Linked DNA regions of Homo sapiens. The protein of the gene in region 1 purifies or fractionates together with the protein of each later gene. This does not show direct contact. Each region holds a gene or a part of one and is shown in the gene's direction. Other genes may lie near its edges. The genes, in order: ILKAP, CUX1, TAF4B, AASDHPPT, CASQ1, PTPRB and MYO1C.

Region 1 (3,864 bases):
ATATTAGGAATTCTTGTAAGTGGATTAATACATTGAGTAATGGTTATCCTAAATACTTTTTTTGGGTGCTGGGGACAGAGTCTGGTTTTGTCCCCCAGGCTGGAGTGCAGTGGCGCTATCTCAGCTCACCGCAACCTCCGCCTCCCAGGTTCAAGCAGTTTTCCTGCTTCAGCCTCCCAAGTAGCTGGGGCTACAGGCACCCGCCACCATGCCTAGCTAATTTTTGTATTTCTGGAGAGACAGGGTTTCACCATGTTGGTCAGGCTCATCTTGAACTGCTGACCTCAGTCCTGACCTTGACCTCCCAAAGTGCTGGGATTATAGGTGTGAGCCACCACACCTGGCCATACTAAATACTTTTTAATGGCTTTCTTCTGCTTCTTGTATACTTCTAATAGAGTCTTTATGTCACTTGTAAGAAAAGTGAAAGTATTTGCAATTCCTTAATTTGTTTAGGGTCATCCTGAAGGATTAGAATACATTTTCCCATTTGTATTAGGGATATAAAGCAAAATAGTTATTTTTTGTTAACTCAGGAATTTCTTGTGTATTTTAGGTACTTCTGACGCAAAGACCCCGGGAGAAATTTCATTCCCTTAAGTTTATAAATTTTTAATTAAAGCTTTTGTTTTTAAAAGAAGAAAGTTGATACCCAGCTCATTTCTAAATGGAGGCAAAAAGATGATAGGGATGACCCTCTTGGGGGATATAAATTTATTTGTTTAGTTGAATTGGTGTTTGGCCTGGCACAATAGCTCATACCTGTAATCCCAGCACTTTGGGAGGCTGAGGCGGGTGGACCACTTGAGGCCAGGAGTTTGAGACCAACCTGGCCAACATGGTGAAACCCCGTCTCTACTAAAAATACAAAAATTAGACCAGACATGGTGGCTCACCCCTGTAATCCCAGCGCTTTGGGAGGCTGAGGCAGGCAGAACACTTGAGGTCAGGAGTTCAAGACTAGCCTGGTCAATATGGTGAGACCATGTCTCTACTAAAAATACAAAAATTATTTGGGCATGGTGGTGTGCGCCTGTGATCTCACCTACTCAGGAGGCTGGGGCAGGAGAATAGCTTGAACCCGGGAGGTGGAGGCAGTGAGCGAAGATCACATTACTGCACTCCAGCCTGGGCAACAGAGTGAGACTCAGTCTCAAAAAAAAAAAAAAAAAAAAAAAAAGTGAATTGGTTTTTAAGTGAGTACTTTTTTTTTTTTTTTTTTTGTGACAGAGTCTCACTGTGTTGCCTAGGCTGGAGTGCAGTGGCCCAATCATGGCTCACTGAAGCCTTGGCCTCCCTGGGCTCAGGTGATCCTCCCACCTCAGCCTACTGAGTAGCTTGGACTACAGGCGCCTGCCACCACACCTGGCTAATTTTTGTATTTTTTTCATAGACATTTTTTTGCCATGTTGTCCAGGCTGGTCTCGAACTCCGGGACTCAAGCAATCCTCCCACCTCAGCCTACCGAAGTGCTGGGTTTATAGGCATGAGCCACTGCGCCTGGCGTAAATGAGCACGTTTTTATACTTGAACTCTGAGGAGCAAGAGGTGGGATAGAGCTGGTGTGTTTGGTTGGTGTGTTGAACTTTGCAGGAGGTGAACGTGTATACTTTCAACTTGGATTCTTGTGTGCCAGTTCAGATATCTAATAGCTTAAACAGAATTTCAGGAAAAAGCTGGAAAATAAGGAATGGTCGTTAAATTTTATGTGGAAAAAGATAATTGGGCATAAAACATTTAAGACATACTTTTGGAGTGTAAATCTTCACATTTTTTGTTAAAAGAGTTTCGTGACTTTCTCCTGAGGCTATCTGTCTTTGGTTACCTGAAACTCCTTTATTTTCTCCATAGCTATTTATTGAATCAGACACTGTGCTGGGGCTAGGGACACCAGGTTCCAACAGATTTTCTTCCCTTGCAGAATGTTACCGAAATAGGATTTTTATAAACCTGTAGGTCTTTGAAGGCCCCTCCTCCACCCCACCCCAAATTTCTGAACGTCTATCAGGAAGTCTCAAGTATTGTTTTCCTGGTCTAGAATCAGTTTTTTTCTTCCCAGGATTCTATTTTAAAGAAAGACTTTTAAATGTTTCATGCTTTCAATAATGAAATTATCAAGAAAATACTTGTTTTCCTCAAAATATTCAGTGGCCCTGAAGATGCCTGTTAGGGCATCAATCATTGCTTTTATGTTGACTGTAACTGTTGGAAACAGATGTCCATATTAAAAAAGCTGTTAAGAAAATATGTTTTAAAAATTTGCCCAACAGGAAGGAGAAAATTAGAATCTAATAGCAAACTTGTGTCAAAGCAGGGGAGACCACATGATCTTCCTCTTTGAAAATCTGTCCTGGGTGATGACCATATGCTCTCTAAACAGGTTTTCTGTGTTTTAGGGAAAGAAGCTCAGAAAGGACCCCTGCTCTTTGATGACCTCCCTCCGGCCAGCAGTACTGACTCAGGTACAGTCTTCAGGCTCTCCCAGGTGTGTGTCAACGTCTCTACTCATCCTGGGATTGTAGTTGTCTCAATCTTTTTCCCTTTCCCCCATTTTCAACACACAGATGTTTTAGGTGTTGGACTGTCTTTAAGTTTTGAATCCATGGCATCAGGTAAGGCAGAAAAATCTGCTAGTCGCTAGCCCTGAGAAGTACTGCGAGGAAATGTGGAGCAGTTTTCTCTGGTTCATTTGAGTATTTATTTTACTACCTGAAGTACAATTTAACTTTTTAAGGCAGATTTTTATTTCCTTTGAAATAATAGGACTTTAAAATAGGTTCAAGATATTATTCATTGCAGTATGAGTTGCCACTGGATTGACGCAAAGTTTTGAGTTTATTTCAGTAACCTACATAGGTGTCCTGGTGGGATGGATTCTGAAACTTAAGTCTTACATATTTTTTGTGGGCTCACTAAGTGTTCTGCTGTGTTTCAGGATCAGGGGGACCTTTGCTTTTTGATGATCTCCCACCCGCTAGCAGTGGCGATTCAGGTAAGTGGTAGGAAAAATCCAAGGTGCTGATGGAAATAATACATAGTATTTTACTCTTATGTGAAATTTATGTATAGGTTTTAACGGGATTTTGGATGACATTAAGTCATAATACAGCATAAGGTTTACTAAAACTATAAACAGGCACATTAATTGGAAGCACAAAGATAATACTGTATCACTTTCTGGTGATATTAACTTCTTGAGGTTCAGATTGTTGGAACTGCCTTTAAGAATTAAGAGTTCACTAATTTACTCTTAACTTTGTTATTAACATTTTTTAAAAATTCAGAGTTCATTATTCCGATTTGCCTTGTTAAACAGAGTGCTTGACTCAAATGTATCGAGGCTAGTAGCATTGGCTCTACCTCCTCCTGAAAATGTTCCTTTTCATGTCCTAATTAAGTAGAAGGGAAGAATAGAGCAGATTCCTGTTGCCATTGCGGCAAAGGTATGATTCTGTCTCATGAGAACTTCTTAGGTAGAGCTCCTCTGGTTGGGGAAGGTGAGGGTTAGGAGAGGTTGGGAGATAGATGGTGTGGGGGCAGTGGGGAATGCAGGTAATCCCATTTCGTATGCAGGTATATTTTCTATATTTTAGGAAAAGTACTCCAGTCATCTTATATAAGAATTCTCAATCTTCAGGGCTGTAGACCCATACCAAAAAATTGCAGCATCCTCACACTCACAGTGTGGCCTGAAACCTTCCCAATAAAGATAGTACCCTTAGTTGTAATGAAAGTTAATATGTTCTGGCTGGGCGTGGTGGCTCACGCCTATAATCCCAGCACTTTGGGAAGCCAAGGCGGGTAGATCACTTGAGGTCAGGAGTTCAAGACCAGCCTGGCCAACATGGCGAAACCCTGTCTCTA
Region 2 (4,568 bases), on another chromosome or scaffold:
GCGGCGGCCGGCTCCAGGCCGGGTTTTGGCGCCGCCCGCCTGCTGCCTCCTGGCGGCTCCTGAACTCCAGCCCCCTCTCTATCAGCCGCTCACTCCGTCTCAATATGTCTCAAGATGGCGGCCAATGTGGGATCGATGTTTCAATATTGGAAGCGCTTTGATTTACAGCAGCTGCAGGTCAGGCTCCTCCGCGCTCGGCCTCGCGCCCGGGGGTGGGGGCTGCGGGCGGTCGCGGCCTCCGCCGGGGGCCCCGGGCTGGCCCAGCCGCCGGGGGGCCCGCGGCGGCGGGGAGGAGGGGGGTGCCGGGCACCGCGGGGCCGAGTCGGGGCCGAGTCCCTCCCGCTCCCCGGCCCCCATTGATCACTCGCTTGATCGGAAATTGATCCTCTTTGTTCAATTCATCGATCAGCCCAAGATGGCGCCGGGAGCCGCCGCCGCCACCACTGCCCCCGGTGTCTGCCCCCACCCCGGGCGCCCCCCCGGGCCCCGCGCCGCCGCCGCCGCCAGCGCCGCCGCCGCCGTTGCCGCCGCGGGACCGGGGAGGGGGCGGCCCCGGCGGCCCGCGGGGTGCGCGCGCGAGCGGGGAGCGGGGAGCGGGCGGCGGGGGGCGGGCGGCGGCGGGCGCCGGGAGGGGGCCGCGGCCCGGCGGTGGCGCCCGCCCGCCCGCTCGCCCCGCGCCCCCGGCCCGCCGTATTCCCGGGGAAAGTTTGTGGGGAGTTGCTGCGGGGGGTGAAGCGCCTGCCTCTCCAGGAGGAGCCGCCGCCACTGCCGCCGGCGCGGCGGAGCTGGGGCTGGTGGCGCTGTGGTGCCGCCGGCTCGGGGGAGGGTCAGAGCGGCCACCGGCGGCGGCGGCGGCGGCGCGGCCCGGCTCCGGCCAGGCGGGCGGGTGGCCGGGCAGGCGCCCGCGCTCGCTACCCCCGGCCGGCCCCGGCCGCCGCCCCCGGCTGTCACCGGCCCGGGCCGCGCCGCCGCTCCGGCACCCCGCGTGTGGCTCCCGGCGCGGACCCCCGGGTTTGTTTACGTCCCGGGGAGCGCCCCGGGGCCACCCGCGCACCTCGCGGCCGCCGCGCTCTTTTGTGTGCCTGTGTCGGTGACGCGGACCTGTTCCTCCGTGGCGGACCCCCGCGGGGGCTCTTTGGGGAAACTTGGCGAGGGGCGGCGGGGGTGCCCCGCGCGCAGTGTCGCTGGGTCCCGGTGTCCCGGACCGCCGGGTGCGGGCGCGGGAGGAGGAGGCTGCAACTTTCCCCTAGGCAGGCCCCAAGCTGTTCCCCCGGGTGCCCGGGCAGTGTACGCTGCCTCCCCGCCGCCGGTCCGAGCCGCGATCGCCGCGCGCCTGGGGGCTCCGGCGGCCCCCGGTGACCTGCGGCGCCGGGTCCCTTCCTTGCGTCCCCTCGGGGCTTCTGCCCTCTCTGCAGGGCCCGCCATGGAGCGCGCGGCGGGTGCGCTCGGAGATGCCTTCTCGGGCCGGGTTCTCGAAAGCAGAGCCCCGGGGGCCCGTTGGGACCGTGGCATGCCGGGCGGTGGTCCGCGCGCGGAGTCCCCGGCGCCGCGGGGGGACCGTGCCGGGGCTCCCCGGCCCGCGCCCGAGTCGCCGCCGTGCCCAAGGGGCGAGTGCCTGCCTGCCACCCCCCGCCCGGAGGAGCGGCGCACCCTTAGGGTCCGCCCCGCACGTGCCAGCTCGGCGCCCGCGGCGCCGGGACAGCCCCGGGACTCTGCCAGGTGGATGTTGTGCGTAGCCGGAGCCAGGTTGAAGGTGAGCGGCGTGTGGGCCAGAAGTCCCGAGGTTGCAGGCGCGGAGGGAACCGGGGATGTCGGGGGGTGCCCGGGTCCCGCGGCTTAGAATGCTCTAGGGCGGCCTGGTGCTCTGGGAGGGGATAGGAGGGTTCCTCAGGGCCCCTGGGGAACTGCAGCTACTCCCAACTGCTAAGGTGTGCGTGAAGATAAACTTGGCTGAACTTTCCTAACCTGGAGGACTGGTGACAGTGACCTACCGCAATACCTTTGGGAGCAAAGCTCGAGATGCAGGCTTGTATCAAACGAAGCGGGTTGGATTAAAACATATTTAAATGGAATCTGACAACTTTAATTGTATATGCTTGTTTTCTGCTCTTGCCTACTAAGAACGATAAAGCCGAGTCATAGTCGTTATGAAATTTCCTGAAATTTCTCGCTTAACTAGGAAGAAGACTATGCGAAATATGTATTTCCGATAAGATTAAAACTTAAAGGAGTTTAAGTATTTATTGACTAAAATAGATTACTCCAAAGTGTCTATTGTGTAAATTAGATTCCTGGATGTAATGAACACAGCCGAATGGCATTTTTGATAAATTGGTCTACCCTGTTTTAGTAAAAATAGCTCCCTTTTACCATAATTTAATTCCTGTGCTTACTGTAAAACCCGTTGTGGAGTTTTAAGGACAAACATTATTATTATTTTTCTCTCTTGTCTTCCTAAATGTGACATCCTAGCTTAATATCAATGAAGTGTCTTTTTTAAAGCATCCTGGCAAAATTGCCTGGAAAATGGATTTGGTTTCTAGAGTTACTAGATTTTAAGAACTCTAAACCTTCCTGTCCCCCATATTAGCTACTTCTTCAGGGGATCAGGGCTCCAGGGTTCCATCGAAAGTTTCCATGTCAGTTTACTTGCACTTTATGTGGATATTAAGAAGAAATCAAAACCAAACCCCAAAACAAAGTCCCTTATTTGAACTTCATTCCTCTTTACTCCTTTGCTTTTGGTGGTTGCTAACGATTTGGCCTTAGATGATTTCCTATGGGTTTGCAAACTTTAGTCGAATACGGAATGTCAAAGTTCAAGTCTCAGGCCAATCTGGTTCTTTCTCTGGGCGGTGAGGAGGCCTTTGGAGTTGGTGTCTGGTTAATTCCCACCGATAGTCAGTGAGTCAATAGAACGAGTTTGGGAGAGAATTCATTAGTTCCAGATTTTTCTCATTTTTCCAGACCTCTTTATACTGAGATTGGGTTGCCACCTGGGGGTAAAGAGGCTGATCGGTCTTTGCAGAGAGAAATCCAGGTTGGAGACGTCAGCGGGTCCAGGTGAGGTTGGGCCGTTCCGCAGTTCTGCAACCCTGGCTCACTGGGTTCTTGTCCCTCGGCTTCCTGGGTCTTGAAGCTGCTGCCTTGGCACAGGAGTGTGTGCTCAGGAAGAGAATTTCTGAAGATTGTGTTTTATTCCGTTTCCTTTTTAGTCCCAAAGGCTTGTGGTATGGAAGTTTCAGTGCTTTGGTATTGCTAAGACTAGTTGGACAAGTTTTTTATCCTATCTCAGACTTGTAAAAACCAGGTTTTCTTTTCTTTTTAAATAAGAAAAGCACTGTTGTATAAATTTGTCTTTTAAATACATATTTGAAAGGAGGACACTTTCTAAGACAAAGCTCATGGCACTCTGTATGTTAGTGGAGCTTTGAACTCTTTGGGACGGGGCCCGCCAATGACTGCCTTCCCTTTGGGACATTATTCCCACATGGTGACCAGCCTTCCCCTTTAAGCAGCTTCTGCAAAAGTAAACTTGAAAAGTTGCCTTCTTTTTCAGAATCAAAAAACAATTTCAGTTTTGCTGAAAGTCCATTTTCTGATGGCTTTTTTTCCCCCTGTTGTGGAAGTGTGTATGTTACTGGCTGTCCAGTACTGTTTGCCATAATAAGTATATTATTTTAATTAAAATGTCCCATCTAGTACCCTTTATAAAAGAGCAGTTCAAGAAATTACACCACTGCTGCTCCTGCTTTTGTTTTCTTGGTTCTTTTAATATGGGTGTCTTTGAGGTTGGATGTGGGAAGGGGTCATTGGCAGTTGATTTAAGTTTTTTCCTATGTGAAACTCTTTTTTTCCTTAAAGGTGCAAGTGGTGAGTTAATGCAACAACTCCTGGTACAGTTGAGTCCACAGAGAGCCCTTTGACTACATCCTCGGCTTCGTGTATCTTCTGTCGGTAGTTAGCCAACCTAAGAAAGCTGAAAGGGCCAAATAGTCCAATACCTTCAGGAATGATTCTCTCCTAAATCCACTGAGCTAACCTTAAAAATGCAGTCTGGTGAACTGTGCTGAGCCTGAAACCTTTAATGGCTATTTAAAAAGTCTCCTGTTTTTGTACAATTAAGACAAACCCATCAGGGTTTATATGGGAGCTGTGAAGGAACAGTAGTTTGTGCTCTCTGATTCCCTTCTGGGTCTACCTGTAGCAGTAAACAATCAAAACCACTCCTGAGGCTGTACTCACTTTCTGTGTCTTAGGAGAGAACACAAGACTAGAAGTAGAAAATCCACATTTGTTTCAGCTCCTCTGTAATGCCCCAGGAACGTCTGTTTTTAGTGAAATGAAGGAAGGACACGTTTGTTAGGGGAAAACTCATACATTTCGTAAGCAGAGAAATTCATCATATGAAGAATCCTACAGAGGTAGGTTAAATTCCTACCCGTGCTTCCATTTCAAATAGTTTACACATTTGTCACATGTAAATTTCACAGACAGGTATATCTGACGAATTGTAACACAAATGGTATGTAAAAGGCAACTCTAACCATTATTCAAATATACAGGAT
Region 3 (3,864 bases), on another chromosome or scaffold:
TTTAAAGACTATTTCTTCCTTTCCTTTTTTTTTTTGTTTTTTTTTTTTTTGGAGATGGGGTCTTGCTCTGTCACCCAGGCTAGAATGCAGTGGCATGATCTCAGCTCACTGCAACCTCTGCCTCCCGAGTAGCTGGGACTACACGTGTGTGCCACCACGCCTGACTAATTTTTGTATTTTTTGTATAGATGGGGTTTTGCCATGTTGCCTAGGCTGGTCTCAAACTCCTGGCCTCAAGTGATTGCTTACTTTGGCCTCCCAGAGTGCTGGGATTACAGGCATGAGCCACTGCACCTATTTCTATCCAAAGTTTGAAAGTTACTTAATGAAGAGACCTAGATTCTGCTGTGGTTTAAATAAACTTATAGATACTGAAGTTACTAATGATCTATTATAGGGTTTAGATGATTATAGAAAAGTATAATACAGTGTTTACCAAATTGATATTGAGGGAATACAAATAAGTTTAATACTGAGATATAGTAATTTCATATTGGAAAACAGGCACTTGGGCTTTAAATTGATTGTATCCTGGATATTGGCAGGATATAAGTAAGTGATACAAGCTGTCTTCAACTGAAATACTTGATACACTTTTGATTGGTTTTAAGTTGTAAAGGTATGAAATACCACATTTTGTTTCACAAGTAGCTGATTTGTTAGCAGTGTTTTTTTCCATTCCTCTGCATTTCCAGAAAAGCGTGGTTGCCTTACGACAACTTCTGCCTAACTCCCAGAGCTTCATCCAGCAATGTGTTCAGCAGACTTCTAGTGACATGGTCATTGCTACCTGTACTACAACAGTAACAACTTCTCCTGTGGTGACAACTACAGTGTCCTCAAGCCAGTCTGAAAAGTCAATTATTGTTTCTGGAGCAACAGCACCCAGAACTGTGTCAGTGCAAACTTTGAACCCACTTGCTGGTCCAGTGGGAGCAAAAGCTGGAGTTGTGACACTTCATTCTGTGGGCCCAACTGCTGCAACAGGAGGAACAACAGCTGGAACTGGTTTGCTTCAGACTTCAAAACCACTTGTGACATCTGTGGCAAACACAGTGACCACGGTCTCACTGCAACCTGAAAAGCCAGTTGTCTCTGGAACAGCAGTAACACTGTCCCTTCCAGCAGTAACTTTTGGAGAAACTTCAGGTGCAGCTATTTGTCTTCCATCTGTGAAACCTGTTGTTTCTTCTGCTGGGACCACATCTGACAAGCCTGTTATTGGGACTCCAGTTCAAATCAAACTTGCCCAGCCGGGCCCTGTCCTTTCACAACCAGCTGGGATTCCACAGGCAGTTCAAGTCAAGCAACTAGTGAGTAACATTTTGTTTCTTCCCCAGTTACTTATTTTGAAAATTTTGAACATTCAGAAAACTGGTAAGACTAGTAGAAAACTAGTAAGGCTATATACTGTTTACGGGTTTGACCAATTAATTTTTTTTTTTTTTTACCTCATTTGCTTTGTTTTCCTCTTTCTACTCACACCCACAAACACACATATAAGTCCTTTTTTTAAAGACAGAGTCTTACTCTGTCGCCCAGGCTGGAGTGCAGTGGCACGATCTCGGCTCACTGTAACCTCCACCTCCCAGGTTCAAGCATTTCTCATGCCTTACCCTCCTGAGTAGCTGGAATTACAGGTGTGCACCACCACGCCTTTCTAATTTTTGTATTTTTGTTAGAGATGGAGTTTCTCCATGTTGGCCAGGCTAGTCTTGAACTCCTGGCCTTAAATGATCCACCCGCCTTGGCCTCCCAAAGCACTGGGATTACAGACAGGCAATGAGCCACCACGCCCAGCAGCAAACACACACGTAAGTCTTTACTGAACCACCTGAGAGTGGTTGCAAAAATTATGACAGTGCATGGTGTATATCTCCTAAAAGGTTTTTTTTGTAAAACATAACCACAACATACCTGTTGTCACACACAGGAAATTAATATTGGTACAGTATTTCTGTAGTTGTCCCAATAATGTGTTTTTATTTTTATTTTTTTGTAGAGAGAGGGTCTTGCTGTGTTGCCCAAGCTGGTCTCAAACTCTTGGCCTCAACTGTTCCTCTCGACTTAGACCTCCCAAAATGTTAGGATTACAGGCATGAGCCACTGTACCTGGCTCATTTAATCTAGAATACTTCTCTAGCTTTTTGTGGTTGTTTATTATATTGTAATGTTTTAAGTGCCCAGAATATTTGCAGAATAGTCCTTTGTTTTGTCTGATTGTTGTGTTTTTTTGCTAAACTTGGTAGGTTGGGAGGTTCTTGGGTGAAAGAAGGAAATTTTAGCTGTTTGTCGATTAGTGTTTAGAATGTTCTTCTTTATTTAAGAAAAGGTAAGTTTTACCAGAAGGCTATGAAAGTATTGTTAACTCATGGGAGATACTACATGATGCATTAATTAAAAATCATAACGTTTTTAGTAAAGTTCTTCCCTATCTTCTACGATAACAGAGCTTGCTGTTCTTTTGGTGAATGTCCTTGTTCTCTTTTGTAATGCTTTGCATTAGACGCTGTGTTTTAAATCTCTGTTTTGGTTCATTCTGCTTCTTGGGTAGCCTTTCCAGCCCTGTTTGTTTTATCAGAATAAGAGGTATCTGAGTGATTGTCGTCTGAGGCAACAGGGCAGCTTTGGACATAGAATGAAAGGGGTTGATCCGTGACCAGAATTGGAGAGTAGTCAGACTCTTGAGCAGATAAATGATGGTCATTTCCTGGGCACTAATCTTTTCTCATCCCTTCCCACTCTGCATCTCATTTTCAAGTGGGGAAATGTAACTGCCTTGCAGGATTTCTCTTGGGTACGTGAATTTAATCTCAGAGATGAAACAACATTTTTAGAAGCAGTGATTCTTAAACATTGTTCTGGGCAGCCAGGTTTGAGAACCACTGGAATAGAGGAATTGCCCCAAGGAAAGGCCTCTTTTTGGTAGCACTGAACAGAATTGAAATCCTCTTTATATGTCATAGTTGTTTCTTGAATCAATGCTAATCTTTATTGAGCATCTATAGCATATAGGTCCCTGGGGTGAAATAATACTTTATAGCTACATAGTTTTAAAAGCATGTCATTATATGCTATGGATTTTAAAATAATTTTATGATAAAAAGGTAGGGAGAAAACTAAGAATCCAGAAATTCTGAGCTGACTCATCCAGTAACAGTTAAGTGGCCGGGCGCAGCGGCTCATGCCTGTAATCTCAGCACTTTGGGAGGCCGAGGCGGGCGGATCACCTGAGGTCAGGAGTTTGAGACCAGCCTGCCCAACATGGCAAAGCCCCGTCTCTACTAAAAATACAAAAATTAGCCAGGTGTGGTGGTGGGCACCTGTAATCCCAGCTACTTGGGAGGCTGAGGCAGGAGAATGGCTTGAACCCGGGAGGCAGAGGTTGCAGTGAGCCAAGATCGCACCACAGCACTACAGCCTGGGTGACGAGCGAAACTCGTCATCTCAAAAAAACAAAAACAAAACAAAACAAAAAACAGTCAAGTAATGGATCTCAGACTAGAACCCAGATGACTTTTCCATTAGGGTATGGTGCTCTTAGAAAGAACTTCTAGGTTTCTGGAATGTCCTGAAGCAGGAAGCTGTCTCATGATAATATCTTGACAGCATTTTTGTTTTGTAGGTTTGACTTGTTATACATTATAAATCATTTCAATAAAGAAATAATGCAACAAAATTTGATGGTAAATTTTAGGGTTTTTTTACTTCCTACCTTCATTTTTAATAATTTCATTTTCCCTGTGAATTCTGCTTTCTTGTTTGTCCTTTGTTTCAAGTTTAGCCAGTAAATTTGATGTTAGTATTTACACCTACCTGTTTAAAGTGGCAAGAGCCAGAGTGGCCAGACCCTGAAGACAGATT
Region 4 (3,864 bases), on another chromosome or scaffold:
ATATAACAAACACTGATAATATATACTACATGCCAGAAGACATTACTTCAAGCTCTAAGTTAGTTAATTTAATGTACATAACATCCCTATGAGGAAGGTATTGTTATCATCATCGCAGGTTACATACGAGGGGATACAGGCACGGAGAGCTTAAATGATTTGCCCTAAGATCATATGGATGGTTTGTTTTCATGCTGTAAGGGTTTTTTTTTAAAAAGGTTATAGCTATATAGCCATAATGTAGTATAGCATTGAAACTCCCTATCTTTTGGACCTGTAGATTCTATGAAAAATTTTTGTCCACCAAATTCTAAGAGAAAATGTCTTTCTGTATCTTAGGCACTTAAGGAAAGCTTCATAAAAGCCATTGGTGTTGGACTAGGATTTGAATTGCAGCGGCTTGAATTTGATCTATCTCCATTAAACTTGGATATAGGCCAAGTTTATAAAGAAACACGTTTATTCCTGGATGGAGAGGAAGAAAAAGAATGGGCATTTGAGGTAAGAAATTTGTTAGAATTGTTAAAACTAAGAATTTCTATTTTTTATGCATGTATGTGTGATTAATTTGGGTAAGCTAGTCACTGAATTTGGACGCAACTGAATCCAGTCCTGCTGCTCTGAAAGTGAAATCAGGGCTACTATGAGAGCATGTAACATTTATACTAATACTTGAAAGAAGTTGAAAGATGAGTCATTGTGAGTTCAGTACGGGAAAGGAAAAGAGGCTCTGACAAGGAGCTTTGCATGTATGAACAGCCAAACGCAGCCACTTTGGCTGGGCCATAATGAGGGTATTTAAGAGAGATTCCAGATCAGGCTGGTAGATCCTACAAGGTATTGATCAAGTTAAATATTTTGGTTTCTTACTGTATTTTGTTTCTGTCACTGGCAGTTCCTGGTTGCTAGTGAGAGAAGCCAACACACACAGCCAAAAAACCCCCCAAAACAGTATTATAGGTTACTAGAGTGATTCAGTAACTGTCCCCAGTATTAGCTAGAATTAGGGGATGAAATATTTAGAGCTCTTTTTGTCTCCTAGTTTTGCCTTTCTCTACATTTTGGCTTCAGTTTTCTCCCACCCATGTTTCTCATTCTGTACACCAGCTTTCTCAGCCTCTCTGGTCTGCATGACAGAAAACATGGCTCTTGCATGTAACATACTGTTGCATGTAACAGTTTATAAACAATTTACAGTTTAAAAACCTAAACAAACTGGTAAACTCACTTTCTGTTCCAAGCCCAAAAATCCTAGAGAAGGGATGCCCTGGCCTAGCTTGGGCTAGTTGTTTATCTCCAGACCAGTCATTATACTGTGATTGGTCCTGCTTGTGTCCAGCAAACGGGCTATAGAGCAGTTCTCTGACTTACAAGATCATCTGTTGAGATACTGAATACTAGAAAATAAATGAGATGTTAAGTTTGAGATACCAAACATCTAAGTGAAGATGTCAGATAGGTGAATGGAATGGAGGGCTGGGCTAGAGGAAAAAAATTATAATCATAATGGTTATAAGTATAACCATTATGTCAATGGTAGTTGAAACCATGGATTTGAAGTTGAAACTGTGAGATTACCTAAGGAACAGCTATATATTGAATCTATGAAGAGAGAAGTGGAAATTGAAACCACAAGAAGTTAGAAGTAAGGCCTAGAATAGAGCCCTGAGAATATATATGGTCCCCAGTTTATGATGGTTTAACTTTTTTTGACTTTATGACAGTATGAAAGTGATAATGCATTCAGTAGAATTCATATTTGCAGAACCCACGCAACCATTCCTTTTTTCATTTTCAATACAATATTCAATAAATTACATGAGCTATTCAGCATTTTATTATAAATGAGGCTTTGTGTTAGATGATTTCGCCCACTGTAGGCTGATATAAGTATTCTGAGCACATTTAAGGTAGGCTATGCTATGCTATGATGTTTGGTAGGTTAGGTGTATTAAGTGCATTTTCCATGTAACCATATTTTCTTACAGTGAGTTTATTGGGATATAACATCATCGTGAGTCGTGGAGCATCTATACTAATATTCAAAGGTGAATTTGTGGAGGGGACTGATAAAGAATGACCAAAATGGTATAAGAGAGTAGTGTTGGTATCCAAGGACAGAAAGCATTTTGAAGAAGAGAGCTGGGTCAATAACTGCTAAGGACTAGATGTGGTGGTTCATGCTTGTTATCCCAACACTTTGGGAGGCCAAGACACTGCCTCTACAAAAAATTTAAAAAATGAAAGTTTCAAAACAGTATATCCATTAGTTAACATTCTTTAGTGTCCAACTATCAATTGTTAGTGTACATACACCTCTCATTATACATTAAGCATGATTCTTATTTATTGAAATATTCAATACATATAAGAACTATATCTTATATGCTAAATTTCTGAAAAATTATTTTAGATATTTTTAAATTTGTACATTCCAGTTACTTTTTTCTTGTTTGTTTAAAGAGAAAACAGAACAGGGCTACATAGCAGACTTACTTTGCGATAACTTTGACATAGTAAATCTTCTGATACTTAGTCTTATATTTTTCCTCTTTAAACATATCTTAAATTTATCCTTACTGAATTTCACTTTATGCTGACTTGGGTACCTGAAGGTATGAAGATAGGAAGAAGAAGATAAAAAATGAAAAAGCTCCCTAAGTACTATTTCTAATTGTAGTTTCTTCTGACGTTTTATGGAAGAATGCTTTAGTAAAGTGGTTTTTCAGTGAAAAGTTTGTTCAGCTTTTAAGTGTTTACAATTTTTTCTGGTAACTGCTTCAATATATATTACATTTTAAAGTCCCCTTCCCCTTTGTCTCATATGTAGAGGAAAGTAGAAAATTGCATATTGGTTATGTTTTACCTATAAATTTCCACCATGATTTTTCATACGTGATAGTATGTAGTTTACTAAATGCTTACATACCAATGTTGCAACTTGATTTTTTTTTTTTAACCTTGTACTTTATTATACATACTAACATCACCAGTGAAGGACAGATAGCTGTCAAGTACCTCTAGATAGGGCACATCACCTGTGTAGTATTCTGGTTGAGAATGCATAACCTAATCCACTCATTAAATATCAAACAAACCCCAAATGAGCAATATTTTATTAATAAAAAGCAGATTTAGGGAATTTGTACTTTAAAACGTTAATGTCATAAAAAACAAAAGAAAGGCTAACAAGACATGACAACTGAATGCAATACTTGTCCCTACTTGCCCATTACTGGGCTCCTGTTCTGGAGGAGGGATATGCCACAAAGGATGCTATTGGATTAATTCACAGAATTTGGAATACAGCTAATAAAGTATTGTTTCAATGTTAAACTTACTGACGTTATTAACTGCTGTGGTTATGTAAGAGAATGTGCCTACTAGGAAATACATGTTGAAGTATTTAAGAGTAAAGGGCCAGCACATATGTAACTTCTAAAGTAGTTTAGCGGAGGTGGGGAAATATATATATGCACGCGTGTGAGTGTACGTATATGTATATATATATAGAGAGAGAGAGAATGAGATTTAGAAAATGTAAACAAAGTTACATCTAGGTTTACATATTTTATAATCTATATTTATTTACCTTTTATCTTTCAGGAAAGCAAAATAGATGAGCACCATTTTGTTGCAGTTGCTCTTAGGAAACCCGATGGATCTAGACATCAGGATGTAAGATTTTAGGATTTCTCTTTTTTCTAAATAGCATGAATCAATGTTAAGTTTGCTCTTTATTGATGGAAATAGTCATTTGCCTTATATCAGTTTAGAGAGATTTTTTTAAGATTATAGATATAGTAGTACTCTTTATTAGCAAATATTAAGATCACTAGGGATTTTGTAGAAACATTTTTAAAA
Region 5 (4,549 bases), on another chromosome or scaffold:
TGTAAGGTCCACCACACAGACATGTGGAAAAGTTATTCTGCTAACATAATTACATGACCCTCCCTGGATGCAAAACAAAACAAAAAAAACACCACTGTCCCTCTAGAATCAGAGATACCTCAGGGTGCAGTGGCAGCATGTGACTTTGATCTGACCCTCTATGGTCTCCCTCATGCCTCAGTTTACCTGTGCATAGTAAGAACCCTGGAGGGCCATGAAGAGGATCCTTCCTTCCTACGTATCCAGAGTTAAACTCACTACTCTGTCCTCACCCCCCAAGCTGGATCCAGAAGTTTAAGCCCCTACCCGCCCATCTCTGCTTTGGATCTCGGGTGCACAGAATTAATCATCAGTCTTGGTTCAGGGCACAGGGTTCACCTCTTCATGCTTGCCTAATGTTAATTTTTTTTTGCCCTGGTGTCAATACCTGATCCTCTTTGTCTTGTCAAAGACATGGGAATAAATAGTAGCTATTCACTCTCCTTGGAAGCATGCAGCCTGGGAAAACCTCCCTTCCCACTGTGCCCCAGAAAACCGAGTCCCATAGGATCAGGGTAGGGAGTGCACACACAGGTGGCAACCAAAGGACAGACCCCTTCTCATTGTGGGCTTTATAGGCAGAGAAACCCCAAACCCACATCTCTACAGGACAGGATCTGGGCCAGCCCTGTCCTTCCCTGCATTCCCAAGTTAGGAGTGCTGAGTGAAGCAAAGGAAACTGGCTGGAGCTGAGCCAGGTTGCCAGTCTTGGACGCGGCTCCATCTTTTATTCAGAGAATGACCTCATCCTTGGTCCTGGTTCTTTAAAAGAAAGTGGAGGGGGTCTCTTTCCTGCAGCCTGGCTTGCACTTTTATCGCCCCACTCTCCTACATAGTATCAAAGAATCAGAATCAGACTTCACCTACAGAAGATTCCCAGGCTTTAGGACATAGAGCCAATACCACATTTGTCCCCCTTTTGTCCTATATTATCAATTTAGCCTCTGACCCAGTTAGCTCCTCCTCTCCACTGCATTTAACTTCTAATTACCCTTGCCCCACCCTCGGCCCACCCTAATTACCCTTATACCTCCCCTCCCCCAGCCCCAGCTTCATTTACCTCCGACTCATCTGGTCTTATTTTTAGCTCCGGCATCTCTCCTTTTCCTTTCTTAATATGGCGATGAGCTCTTAGGCCAGTGTGGGGACCGGGGCTGAGGTGCCCTGGACACTGGAGGAGGGGGAGGGAAGGAGCCCCTGGGAGCCTGGGGTAGAAGTGTAGGAGGTGGGAGGATTCCGGCCCGCATGGAGCTGTCCTGGCCTCAGAAGGTTATCCGTCTCTCCTGCCAACCATGGAGACATATTTAGACAGGACCAGGTGGGGACTGAGGGGTGCCAATTTCAGGGGGCAGCTCCGGTTCCCTCCCCGCCCCCTGCTCCTATTCCTCCACCTGACCCTTTTTCCCTTGGCTCTGTCGGCAGTTTCTCCAGGACCCAGCAGTGCCCTCTGTCCACTGCTCTGGGCCATTCCCCAATCCCCCCTCCCACTTGAGCCCCTAACTCAGAATCTGGGACCCAGGGGCCCCTCCCTACCCCAGCTAACCTCTTCTGGACCAGGAGAGCCAACCCAGATCCCACTACCTCCATGAGTGCTACAGACAGGATGGGGCCCAGAGCTGTGCCGGGTCTGCGGCTGGCACTGCTGTTGCTGCTGGTGCTAGGGACACCCAAGTCAGGGGTACAGGGGCAGGAAGGGCTGGACTTCCCTGAGTACGATGGTGTGGACCGTGTGATCAATGTCAATGCAAAGAACTACAAGAATGTGTTCAAGAAGTATGAGGTGCTGGCACTCCTCTACCATGAACCCCCCGAGGATGACAAGGCCTCACAAAGACAATTTGAGATGGAGGAGCTGATCCTGGAGGTGAGTTGGGGGCACTGCAGGCCTGCAGAGCATGTCTAGCCCCTCTCCGGAATCCCCTATCCTACACCCATGTAGCTCTTTGAGGATGGGATCTGGGGGTGAGGGGCAGTGTGGTAGGAACCCTGTCCTGACCAACAGGATGCAAGTGGCATGTGGCTTTAGTCAAATGAGAAACAGAGTCTCAGGAACCCAAAAGTACTATCAGCGTCAGGAAACCTTTAGCAGGGGTGCTGCAGGAAGAGCTCCCCTCCCTGCTATAGGAGGCTGGTAGTATTTGACTTAGGTTTGGCTAGGACACTGAGGGTGAAAAAGGGAGGTACTTGGAGGGCCAGGGGAGAACAGCAGTGTATATTGCACTCCCCTACCCCACCCATCTGCTTAGCCAGAACACGTCCTCTCCACATACTTCAGGGGCTGCACCCCAAAGAGATCCAAACTGAGTGTAAATGTAAATGTTATGATACTTGCATGCCATGTTTAAATATCTCCTAGAGATCATGCCTCCCATTGGACTCCCAGTCCCCTCTCTCTTCCTTCCCCCTCCCTAATTCCCCATTTGTCTCCATTGGATAAGCTGGATGCCCTCACTGGAAAATTCTTATGGTTGCAGGAGGTGTCAGAATGTCTTCCCCAATCTTCTTTTTGTGGGAAAAGTCTCCTCACCTCCAAAATGACTTCAGGCCCAAAGGAGAAAGAAGTTATCATAAGAAAAGAAAAAAAACCTATGTTTGGGAATGTGTTCATACACACACACCTTTAGGAAATGGGATGTGAGTTTTCTTGTCCAAGCTCCTGTGGCCCCTTCTCTGGCCTCAGCTTGTCCAGAGCTTGGAGCATTTCAGGGTGAGACACCAGAACCACAGGCTCTCATTTTGTGCACCCCTGCTGGGTGCTAGAACCTGCCATCTGATTAATGAGCCGAGTATTTTTATCCTGAGTGCTCAGTATCCCTGGCCATCCACCTGCCAACCGCCTCCCTTCCCCACCCCTCTGAGAATCACAGTACCTGAGTCTGTGCTGAGTGGGGGTAGAGCTGCAAGCTGTGCCCACAGCAGAGAAAATCAGGGTTGAACGCTAAGCTGGAAGGCTTATGGGGGCAGGGACCTCCAGGTGTGACTGTCCACAGCCTAAGGACAGGCTGAAGTAGAGTGCGAAAGGGGAAAGTTGGGCCCTGATGGGGAGAACTGTCCGGTCGCTGTCAGTCTCTCTCCCTCTGGGGGGTAACAAATGGTGACCTCTTATCTCAGCTCTCTGGCCTTCCCCAACTCCTCAACAACATGACCAGACCCACCACTACCCTCCCACCCTCCAAAATTCTTCCCATTGGGAGTCACTCTGAAGAATCTCAGGGACTTCCAAGATCAACCCCACACTGAGCTTGGCCCTTGACCAGGGACAGGGACCTCCAGGTGTGACTTGAGCAGGATGGAATGCAGGACTCAACCCTGAAGGAGGGAAGGGGCCCTCAGTCACTCTGAAGCCAGACTCCTCAGTACCTCTTAGGCACTGGGAAGTATTGAGTGCAGTGTCTTCAAGTCCAACATAATAAGCACATTGCAAATGAGCAATCAATATTCATGAACTAAGTTGAGCCAAAAACAGAACTGTGTGGCTGTAGGGAATTTGGGGGATATTCTGGATCTTAGCAAAGGGTCAAGGTCAACTCTTATATCTCCCGCACCTCAACTGACCCAACTTGAAAGCATGAGAGGGAGAATAGGGGATAATAAAAATTCCAGGGGCTAATTTTAATCATAATCCTTCCCTCCAGTTAGCAGCCCAAGTCCTAGAAGACAAGGGTGTTGGCTTCGGGCTGGTAGACTCTGAGAAGGATGCAGCTGTGGCCAAGAAACTAGGTAAGAGAGGGGAGGGCAGGGGAGGGGAAGGTGGCATTGAGACAAGGGGAGGCTTAGGGCGGAGGACCTGTCAGGCAGTCCTTGGGATCCGAGGGGCTTGGGAATCTCTCAGATTTATGTCTATTCTAAAAGAGGGGGTGAGAAAATATGAGGTTGGGAGGGTTATGGCTCGGAGACTCTGCCTCTCTATTCCTTATGAAGTTCCATGCTCAAATCCCAGAAAGAGGTGGGGGAGGCCTTCTTTATACTTACCTTAAAACATGGCTAGGTGCTGGAGGGAAGGGGAGTCGGGGAATACAGGCGGGGCTGGCCAGACCTCTGCAAACTCCGCTTCCAACCCCTCCCATCCAGAGCCATGGTTGTTAGAGCAGTCAGCCACTAGGGGGCAGCACAGGCTTGAGACGGGATTCTGGACATGCATGGGGGAGGGGTGGTCAGTAATAATGAAGTCATCTGGTCAGTAATAGCAATTAAAGAGCTTGACTGGGAACCAGCTACTAGAGTGCTCAGAGGGGGTGGCATGAATACTCATCTCTAGTCGTTGCGGTCAGAGAAGGGGAGAAATACTGCTAGAATCTACACCTCTCTATTCCCTCCCCTCACCCTACCTGATCCCCCAGCTACTCCCTAGAAAGCTCTGGGGCCACGCTAGCCCCCTAGGCTTAATCCAGGGGCAGAGACCTCAGGCCTGTCGGCCTCTGGGTCAGAGGAGGTGGGTGGGGCAACGGGCCCATGAGGTGGAGCATGTGGGGCCCCGGTGATTATCAAACGGGCTGTGGCCGAGGATTTG
Region 6 (3,864 bases), on another chromosome or scaffold:
TACCATATCTCTAGTCCATATGCCCTTAAAGTTAAATGGCCTGAAATGTAGGCAAGATCTGACTACAATATGTACGACTCACCCACATGCCCAACATAGCATATACTCTCACCTGTGGGCCAAAATGCCTGTGTTTCTGTTTTGTTCTCAGTAACAATTTTTCTTCTGTTTAAGTCCCAGCCTCTGTGAGTCATCTCAGGGGGTCCAATCGGAACACGACAGACAGCCTTTGGTTCAACTGGAGTCCAGCCTCTGGGGACTTTGACTTTTATGAGCTGATTCTCTATAATCCCAATGGCACAAAGAAGGAAAACTGGAAAGACAAGGACCTGACGGAGTGGCGGTTTCAAGGCCTTGTTCCTGGAAGGAAGTACGTGCTGTGGGTGGTAACTCACAGTGGAGATCTCAGCAATAAAGTCACAGCGGAGAGCAGAACAGGTGAGAAGCCCAGGTGCCAATGGCCAAGGGATGGTGGGAAGTAGCTTCCAGAGACACATTTTGATTCTGATTTTAATGACAAGAGATAAAGCCAATAATGATATACCCTGAGCTAGCCCCTGAATTTGGGAAGGGACTGTGGGACAACAGATAAAGGACAAGGCTTTGGTCCAAAAGAAATATGTCCTTAGCTTAGCTCTATGAATCTGGGCAAGTCATTGAGCATCTCTAGGCCTCAGTTTTCTTATCTGCAAAGTGGGAATAATCATATACATCATCACTGTGTGGCTATCACCAGTGCTTCCTAACTGTTTTTATGTCATGGGCACACACAGAGGTCTGTGTGCCACCCTGGAGTTAATCAACAAGGCTATCTGCAACTGAACATAATTGTCTGTGGACGTCAGCCCTGTACCCCAAAATCTGATGGAATTAATATCTTCACACACTTGTAACCCATTCAGGGCACACTCATGCTCCACAGCACCATGGTAAGGAAGATCTGGCTATGAATATTTAAGAAAAGGTATATGAGGCTGGGCACCGTGGCTCATGCCTATAATCCCAGTACTTTGGGAGGCCGAGGTGGGTGGATCACTTGAGGTCTGGAGTTCGAGACCAGCCTGGTCAACGAGAGGAAACCCTGTCTCTACTAAAAATACAACAATTAGCCAGGTGTAGTGGTGGGCACCTGTAATCCCAGCTACTTGGGAGGCTGAGGTGCCTGTAATCCCAGCTACCTGGGAAGCGGAGGTTGCAGTGAGCCAAGATCACTCCACTGCACTTCAGCCTGGGCAGCAAGAGCAAAACTCTGTCTCAAAAAAAAAAAAGTGAAAAAAAAAAAAAAAAAGTACATAAAATGCTCGAAGACAGTGCCTTACACATAATAAACACTATTAATGAAAGCTCCTGCTACTATATTATTATCATATTATCTCTTCCTACAAAGTACATTAAAAGTGTGTCTGATGTTGCTCAGCTATCTTATTTGTATATGTTATGGCATAGCTGTGATTATGTGATTTTTCACTTTCTCCTACATTCAGCTCCAAGTCCTCCCAGTCTTATGTCATTTGCTGACATTGCAAACACATCCTTGGCCATCACGTGGAAAGGGCCCCCAGACTGGACAGACTACAACGACTTTGAGCTGCAGTGGTTGCCCAGAGATGCACTTACTGTCTTCAACCCCTACAACAACAGAAAATCAGAAGGACGCATTGTGTATGGTCTTCGTCCAGGGAGATCCTATCAATTCAACGTCAAGACTGTCAGTGGTGATTCCTGGAAAACTTACAGCAAACCAATTTTTGGATCTGTGAGGACAAGTATGACATGTTTTGCTACTCTTATTTCTCAAATGGAGTAGAGGAAGTATATGTTCAACATCTTACTCAAATAGGGCTTGGATTAAATCCATATTTTTACATGGGATTGGTCTGGATTTGAATTCAGGCAGAAGTCTCTGTAGATTTGTTCGTTCATTCAACATTAACAACAAGGGACAATAAATCTCTCTCTGCCCTCATGGGGCTTACAATTAGGTAGGACGTACTATTTGTAAATAGACATTATATTTTGGGTGTGATGAGGGAAGTAAATGGTACTATGGAGACACTTGTTAGGTAATCTGACCCAATACAAGAGAACTTCTTGGAAAAGGAAACATCCAAATAGAAACCTAAAGCAAGAGATTTACCAGGTAGAGGTAGGGGAAGAAGTGGAGAATATTCCAGGTAGAGAGAATAAAATATTCCAAGATGAGAGAGGAGGGAGAGTACAAGATCTACCAATAGGGGAACAGAAAGAAGTTTATTTGGCCATAGCATAAAAGGTGAGGATTAAGGGAATCAGATAATAAAATATTTTGTATTCCATGGTAACTACTTTGAACTTTATTTTGAACCAACTGGAGCCACTCAATTTCAGCAGAGATATCATAATCATTATTTACACTTTAGAAAGTTACTCTGGGTACAGTGTAGAGAATAGATTGAAAGAGGCAAAACTAGAAGCAGAGGGATCATAGTTAGCATATACTGCTGTATGTCCCTGAGATAAAAATACTTCGACGACGAAGCATATACCAGTTTCTTCCCAAAGGCATTTTGGGATAGATACTATCACCCTCAAAGAAAGACAGGTATTCAGTGTAGGGACTTTAATCCAAATATTTGTGTTTCAATAATACCCAGTATAAGTAGCTTCTGGGATCAGATCAGATAGTTATTGGTTGTTGATAAAATACATAGTTGAAAGTTAGAAATTTAAGCAAGTAGTTGTTTTATTTTTTTAATAAGCATTAATACTATAACAAGTATAACTTTTATGCCACATTGTATCCAAAGAGCAGTTATTTGTGTGTCAAGAGAAATATGTGAAAAAGAACTAAGAGTTTTAGTTTATGGCGAGCTCAGGATGAGTTTTCCGTGGCTGACTGTGGGCTGTGTTCATGAAATCTGCTAAGCAGAACACCCTGCACTGGTTACCAAACCCAGGGCAGAACTCTAAACACTTCTGACCATTGCATCTGGTATTAGAGTAGCCAGGGAAACACAATGCAAACACTGGATGGAACAAAGCTTTACTTACATAGAGAGGAGACAGAGTAAGATCAGCCTCAACAGTATGCATCAGTCCCCCACAGCCAGCTGCAGTAGTTGCCCAGAGATGCACTTGCTATCTTCAACCCTGACAACAGAAAACAGAAGGGCGCATTGTCTGTGGTCTCTTCCAGCAGCCAATGGAGGGCAGTTGGCTAAGTGCACCCCTCTCGGGCCACAGTAGAAGGACCCTGTCCTGTCTCCTCAGAGGACAACTATAGCATTGGTGTTCGCCATCTACCATGTGACACACATGCTTAAGCAGAACAAAAGAGCATACATTGAGCTTGCAACAGGGAATGATACTCCCACACAAGGCAATGAGCCCAGCACAGGGTGTGTAGGCTCTCCATCTCTTGGTAAGAAAGTATCTTAAGCTCAAGGGCCATTTCTTACACAGCCAAATGGGGGTTGATAGACTATGCACATGAGACTGCCTTTCCCAACAGCCTCGCAGGTGCTCAGTTTAAGAGCTCATACAACTCTGTTAGAGGCTAGGCTTATAAGTCACAACTGGACTGTTGTATTCAGTCCCGGGTGCTAGAATTTAAGGGAGGCATTTACCAAAAGGGGGAGTGCCCAAGAGGACAAAAACTGCCATGAAAGAGAGACTCAGTGCTGTTTCATGAGGAATGATTATGGTGGAACTTGTTTTTGTTTTGTTATGTTTTGTTTTGTTTTCTTCGAGGCTTGTATTTATTAGGATCGGGTGAGGCTATGGGTAACAGAAAATCCAAAATAGCAGAAGTTTAAATAGAATAGAAGTTTATAATTTTCATGTAAAATCATTCCAGTACTCAATTTCTCACAAATATGCTTCAAC
Region 7 (3,864 bases), on another chromosome or scaffold:
GGGAGGGGAGGGGAGGGGCAGGGAGAGAAGCCCAGTGCGGGAGGGGAGGGGCAGCAGTAGCTACAAGGCGGGGTGGGGAGGGCAGGGGGAGAGTGCCAGGTGTCCCTCATACCCCTGTCCACTCCTAGGCCTTTGGAAATGCCAAGACCCTCCGGAACGATAACTCCAGCAGGTTCGGGAAGTACATGGATGTGCAGTTTGACTTCAAGGTACCATGGATGTGTGTGTCGTGAGGATTCCCATTCAGTAGGCTCTACACGTGTGAAGCACCTACTGGGTACCAGGGACTATTCCAGGTGCTGCAATTCCAGCAGTCAAACAAAGCAAACAAAAATCCTGCCTTCCAGGGTGATAAACAATAAACAGGGAAATTGAGGCCGTGGCAGAAAATAAAATGCAGTAAGGAGTGGGGGGCAGGTGCGGTCGTATTAGGGTAGGCCTCACTGAGAAAGTGGCATTTTAATAAAGGCTTGACAGCTGGGTAGGGTGGCACATGTCTGTTGTCCCAGCTCCTCTGGAGGCTGAGGCAGGAGGATCACTTGAGGCCAGGAGTCCAAGGTTACCCTAAGCTATGATCATGCCACTGTACTCCAGCTTGGGCTACGGAGTGAGACCCTGTCTCTAAAAAAAATAGAAAATAATGGCTTGATGGAGATAGGAGCAGGCTGTGCAGGTGCCTGTCCAGGCAGCGGGAACGGAACAGCCAGGACAAAGGCCTGAGATACGAGGGTGCTGGAAGTGTTCCAGGACAGCACGGAGGCCACAGCGGCCAGAGAAGAGAGCAGGGGCCCGCGAACAGAGAGAGGCCAAACGGTGCAGGCCCTTTTGGGTTGTTGCAAGAACTTTTTTTTTTTTTTTTTAACTCTGAGTAGAAGGGGAGTCATCGGGCTGGGTGAGGTGGCTCATGCCTGTAATCTGAGCACTTTGGGAGGTTGGGGCAGGTGGATCACGTGAGGTCGGGAGTTCAAGACCAGCCTGGCCAACATGGTGAAACCCTGCCTCTACTGAAAATACAAAAATTAGCCAGGCACGGTGGTGTGTGCCTGTTGTCCCAGCTACTCAGGAGGCTGAGGCAGGAGAATTGCTTGAACCCGGGAGTTCGAGGGTGCAGTGAACTGTGATTGCACTACTGCACTCCAGCCTGGGTGAAAGCAAGACCCTGTCTCCAAAAATAAAAAATAAAAAAATGACTTTAGCTGCTTCACTGGGAGATTGGGAGTAGACGAATAGATGGGAGGGGAACCAGGCTAAGCAGGGAAAACGGTTAGGGGGCTGATGTCATCATGTAGGTGACAGGTGACATTGGCTCAGACCAGTGTGGTGCAGTGGAAGTGGCGAGCAGTGATTGGATTCTGGATGTTTTAAAGGTTAAGGCAGCAGGATGAGCTGCCTGATTGGATGTAGGGTTTGGAGAAACACAGGCTTCCAGGAGGACTGCCAAGTCCTTGGCTTGAACAACGAGAAGGATGTAGTCACCACTGACCAAGGAGGGCAGACACTAACAGGAGCTTGTTTGAAGAGGGAGAAGGTCCGGTGTTGAGCTTCAGGCCTGTTGAATTTGCGATACCTGTCAGGCATCCAGGTGGAGCAGCCAGGTCGTTGGAGTTGAATCTCCCCATTTCCTAGATGAAGTAACTGAGTCCAGCGTGGGTGGCGTGCCTGAGCCGACGCAGCTAGTGGCAGGGCTGGAATTGGCATCCAGGTCTGGCTGCCAAAGCCCAGGAGTGCAGGGGAGAAGAGGGGCAGGTGGGCTCTTTTCCCAGTCCCCGTGACCCGGCCTCATGCCCTGCCCTGCCCACAGGGTGCCCCCGTGGGTGGCCACATCCTCAGTTACCTCCTGGAAAAGTCACGAGTGGTGCACCAGAATCATGGGGAGCGGAACTTCCACATCTTCTACCAGCTGCTGGAGGGGGGCGAGGAGGAGACTCTTCGCAGGCTGGGCTTGGAACGGAACCCCCAGAGCTACCTGTACCTGGTGAAGGTGAGTGGCTGGCAGGGAGGGCAGGTGCCACCCAGGGATCTGGTGCCAGGGCTGGCAACCCAGCTGTGCCCTTCCTCCAGGGCCAGTGTGCCAAAGTCTCCTCCATCAACGACAAGAGTGACTGGAAGGTCGTCAGGAAGGCTCTGACAGTCATTGATTTCACCGAGGATGAAGTGGAGGTGAGGCCTCTTCCGGGACCCTCGCTTTCCTCCTGTCACACCCCCAAAATCTCCTTTTTTTTTTGTTTTTTATTTTTTGAGACGGAGTTTCATTCTTGTTGCCCAGGCTGGAGTGCAGTGGTGCAATCTCAGCTCACTGCAACCTCCGCCTCCTGGGTTCAAGCAATTCTCCTGCCTCAGCCTCCCGAGTAGCTGGGATTACAGGCGCCCGCCACCACGCCCAGCTAATTTTTTGTAGTTTTAGTAGAGACGGAGTTTCACCATGTTGGCCAGCCTGGTCTCGAACTCCCGACCTCAGGTGATCCGCCTGCCTCAGCCTCTCAAAGTGCTGGGATTACAGGCGTGGGCCAGTAATCCCTTTTTTTTTTTTTTTTTTTTTTTTGAGATGGAGTCTCGCTCTTTCGCCCAGGCTGGAGTGCAGTGGTGCGATCTCAGTTCACTGCAACCTCTGCCTCCAGGTTAAAGTGATTCTCATGCCTCAGCCTCCTGAGTAGTTGGGATTACAGACACCTGCCACCACACCTGGCTAATTTTTGTATTTTTAATAATGATGGGGTTTTGCCATGTTGGCTGGGCTGGTCTCGAACTCCTGACCTCAGATGATCCTCCCGCCTCAGCCTCCCAAAGTGCTGGGATTACAGGCGTCAGCCACCGTGCCCATCCCACCCGCAGAATCACCTTCCACCTTTAACACCCATTCCCACTTCCAGCCCCTTCTCTCCGACACTTCACCACCCACCCCTGCATGGCCATCTGCTAGTTGCCCTCTTGGGGCTCTCTGGCCCCTCTCACCCCCTCCTGCCCCCGGCCTGCTCCCCCAGGACCTGCTGAGCATCGTGGCCAGCGTCCTTCATTTGGGCAACATCCACTTTGCTGCCAACGAGGAGAGCAATGCCCAGGTCACCACCGAGAACCAGCTCAAGTATCTGACCAGGGTGAGTGGGGCGGGCAGAGGGCGACGGGAGGACGGCGGGGGCGGGGGCTGGGGGTGCACCCTCACCGTGTCCTCGCCTGCCCTTGGCAGCTCCTCAGCGTGGAAGGCTCGACGCTGCGAGAAGCCCTGACACACAGGAAGATCATCGCCAAGGGGGAGGAGGTGAGGCCGGGCCCTTGCCCTCGGGTGTGGAGGGGCAGCTGTTCCAAGGCAGCCCCTACTCCCATCACTCCCCTTCGCCTGGTTCCCTCAGCAATGCTGGAGGGATGGAAGGAAGGCTGCTCAGAGAAGCAGAGTGAGAGCCGAGCGCCGTGGCTCACGCCTGTAACCCCAGCACTTGGGGAGGCTGAGGTGGGCAGGTCACCTGAGGTCAGGAGTTCGAGACCATCTTGGCCAACATGGTGAAACCCCATCTACTAAGAATACAAAAATTAGCCGGGCATGGTGGCGGGCGCCTGTAATCCCAGCTACTCGGGAGGCTGAGGCAGGAGAATCGCTTGAACCCGGGAGGTGGAGGTTGCAGTGAGCCGAGATCACGGCAACAGAGCTAGACTCTGTCTCAAAAAAAAGAAGCAGCACAGTGAGCTGGCCAGGGTCACATAGGAAGAGAGTAACAGTCCGGCTAGAACCAGACTCCCACCTCGGGAAGGAGGCCTCCTGTCCCTCTACCACCTTCCCTCTGGGGTGGCCACCTGTCCTCCCTGAGGTCCCACTACCAGCACCCCTCCCCATACTGCAGGCTTGCTGGAGCTGGGAGTGCAGAGTGGTGG

The links.
Region 2: the proteins of ILKAP (region 1) and CUX1 purify together in Homo sapiens (affinity purification with mass spectrometry, with the first as the bait; one large-scale study listed by BioGRID). This does not show direct contact.
Region 3: the proteins of ILKAP (region 1) and TAF4B purify together in Homo sapiens (affinity purification with mass spectrometry; one large-scale study listed by BioGRID and IntAct). This does not show direct contact.
Region 4: the proteins of ILKAP (region 1) and AASDHPPT fractionate together in Homo sapiens (co-fractionation; one large-scale study listed by BioGRID). This does not show direct contact.
Region 5: the proteins of ILKAP (region 1) and CASQ1 purify together in Homo sapiens (affinity purification with mass spectrometry; one large-scale study listed by BioGRID and IntAct). This does not show direct contact.
Region 6: the proteins of ILKAP (region 1) and PTPRB purify together in Homo sapiens (pull-down; one large-scale study listed by IntAct). This does not show direct contact.
Region 7: the proteins of ILKAP (region 1) and MYO1C purify together in Homo sapiens (affinity purification with mass spectrometry; one large-scale study listed by BioGRID and IntAct). This does not show direct contact.

Annotation. Positions count from the first base shown.
Region 1 is NC_000002.12:238,193,403-238,197,266, reverse strand, and holds part of ILKAP (integrin-linked kinase-associated serine/threonine phosphatase 2C), read left to right. Parts: intron 1-2,396; coding exon 2,397-2,462; exon of another isoform or gene 2,463-2,485; intron 2,486-2,935; coding exon 2,936-2,992; intron 2,993-3,864. UniProt on the Homo sapiens protein: Protein phosphatase that may play a role in regulation of cell cycle progression via dephosphorylation of its substrates whose appropriate phosphorylation states might be crucial for cell proliferation.
Region 2 is NC_000007.14:101,815,917-101,820,484, forward strand, and holds the start of CUX1 (Homeobox protein cut-like 1), read left to right. Parts: upstream 1-1,709; 5' UTR 1,710-1,723; coding exon 1,724-1,753; intron 1,754-4,568. UniProt on the Homo sapiens protein: May be involved in intra-Golgi retrograde transport.
Region 3 is NC_000018.10:26,285,187-26,289,050, forward strand, and holds part of TAF4B (transcription initiation factor TFIID subunit 4B), read left to right. Parts: intron 1-695; coding exon 696-1,313; intron 1,314-3,864. UniProt on the Homo sapiens protein: Cell type-specific subunit of the general transcription factor TFIID that may function as a gene-selective coactivator in certain cells.
Region 4 is NC_000011.10:106,090,977-106,094,840, forward strand, and holds part of AASDHPPT (L-aminoadipate-semialdehyde dehydrogenase-phosphopantetheinyl transferase), read left to right. Parts: intron 1-339; coding exon 340-501; intron 502-3,606; coding exon 3,607-3,678; intron 3,679-3,864. UniProt on the Homo sapiens protein: Catalyzes the post-translational modification of target proteins by phosphopantetheine.
Region 5 is NC_000001.11:160,189,128-160,193,676, forward strand, and holds the start of CASQ1 (calsequestrin-1 precursor), read left to right. Parts: upstream 1-1,447; 5' UTR 1,448-1,624; coding exon 1,625-1,903; intron 1,904-3,674; coding exon 3,675-3,759; intron 3,760-4,549. UniProt on the Homo sapiens protein: Calsequestrin is a high-capacity, moderate affinity, calcium-binding protein and thus acts as an internal calcium store in muscle. Calcium ions are bound by clusters of acidic residues at the protein surface, often at the interface between subunits.
Region 6 is NC_000012.12:70,557,245-70,561,108, reverse strand, and holds part of PTPRB (receptor-type tyrosine-protein phosphatase beta), read left to right. Parts: intron 1-112; exon of another isoform or gene 113-174; coding exon 175-438; exon of another isoform or gene 439-504; intron 505-1,484; coding exon 1,485-1,766; intron 1,767-3,030; exon of another isoform or gene 3,031-3,129; intron 3,130-3,864. UniProt on the Homo sapiens protein: Plays an important role in blood vessel remodeling and angiogenesis. Not necessary for the initial formation of blood vessels, but is essential for their maintenance and remodeling. Can induce dephosphorylation of TEK/TIE2, CDH5/VE-cadherin and KDR/VEGFR-2.
Region 7 is NC_000017.11:1,478,823-1,482,686, reverse strand, and holds part of MYO1C (unconventional myosin-Ic), read left to right. Parts: intron 1-128; coding exon 129-209; intron 210-1,801; coding exon 1,802-1,981; intron 1,982-2,061; coding exon 2,062-2,160; intron 2,161-2,981; coding exon 2,982-3,095; intron 3,096-3,184; coding exon 3,185-3,256; intron 3,257-3,864.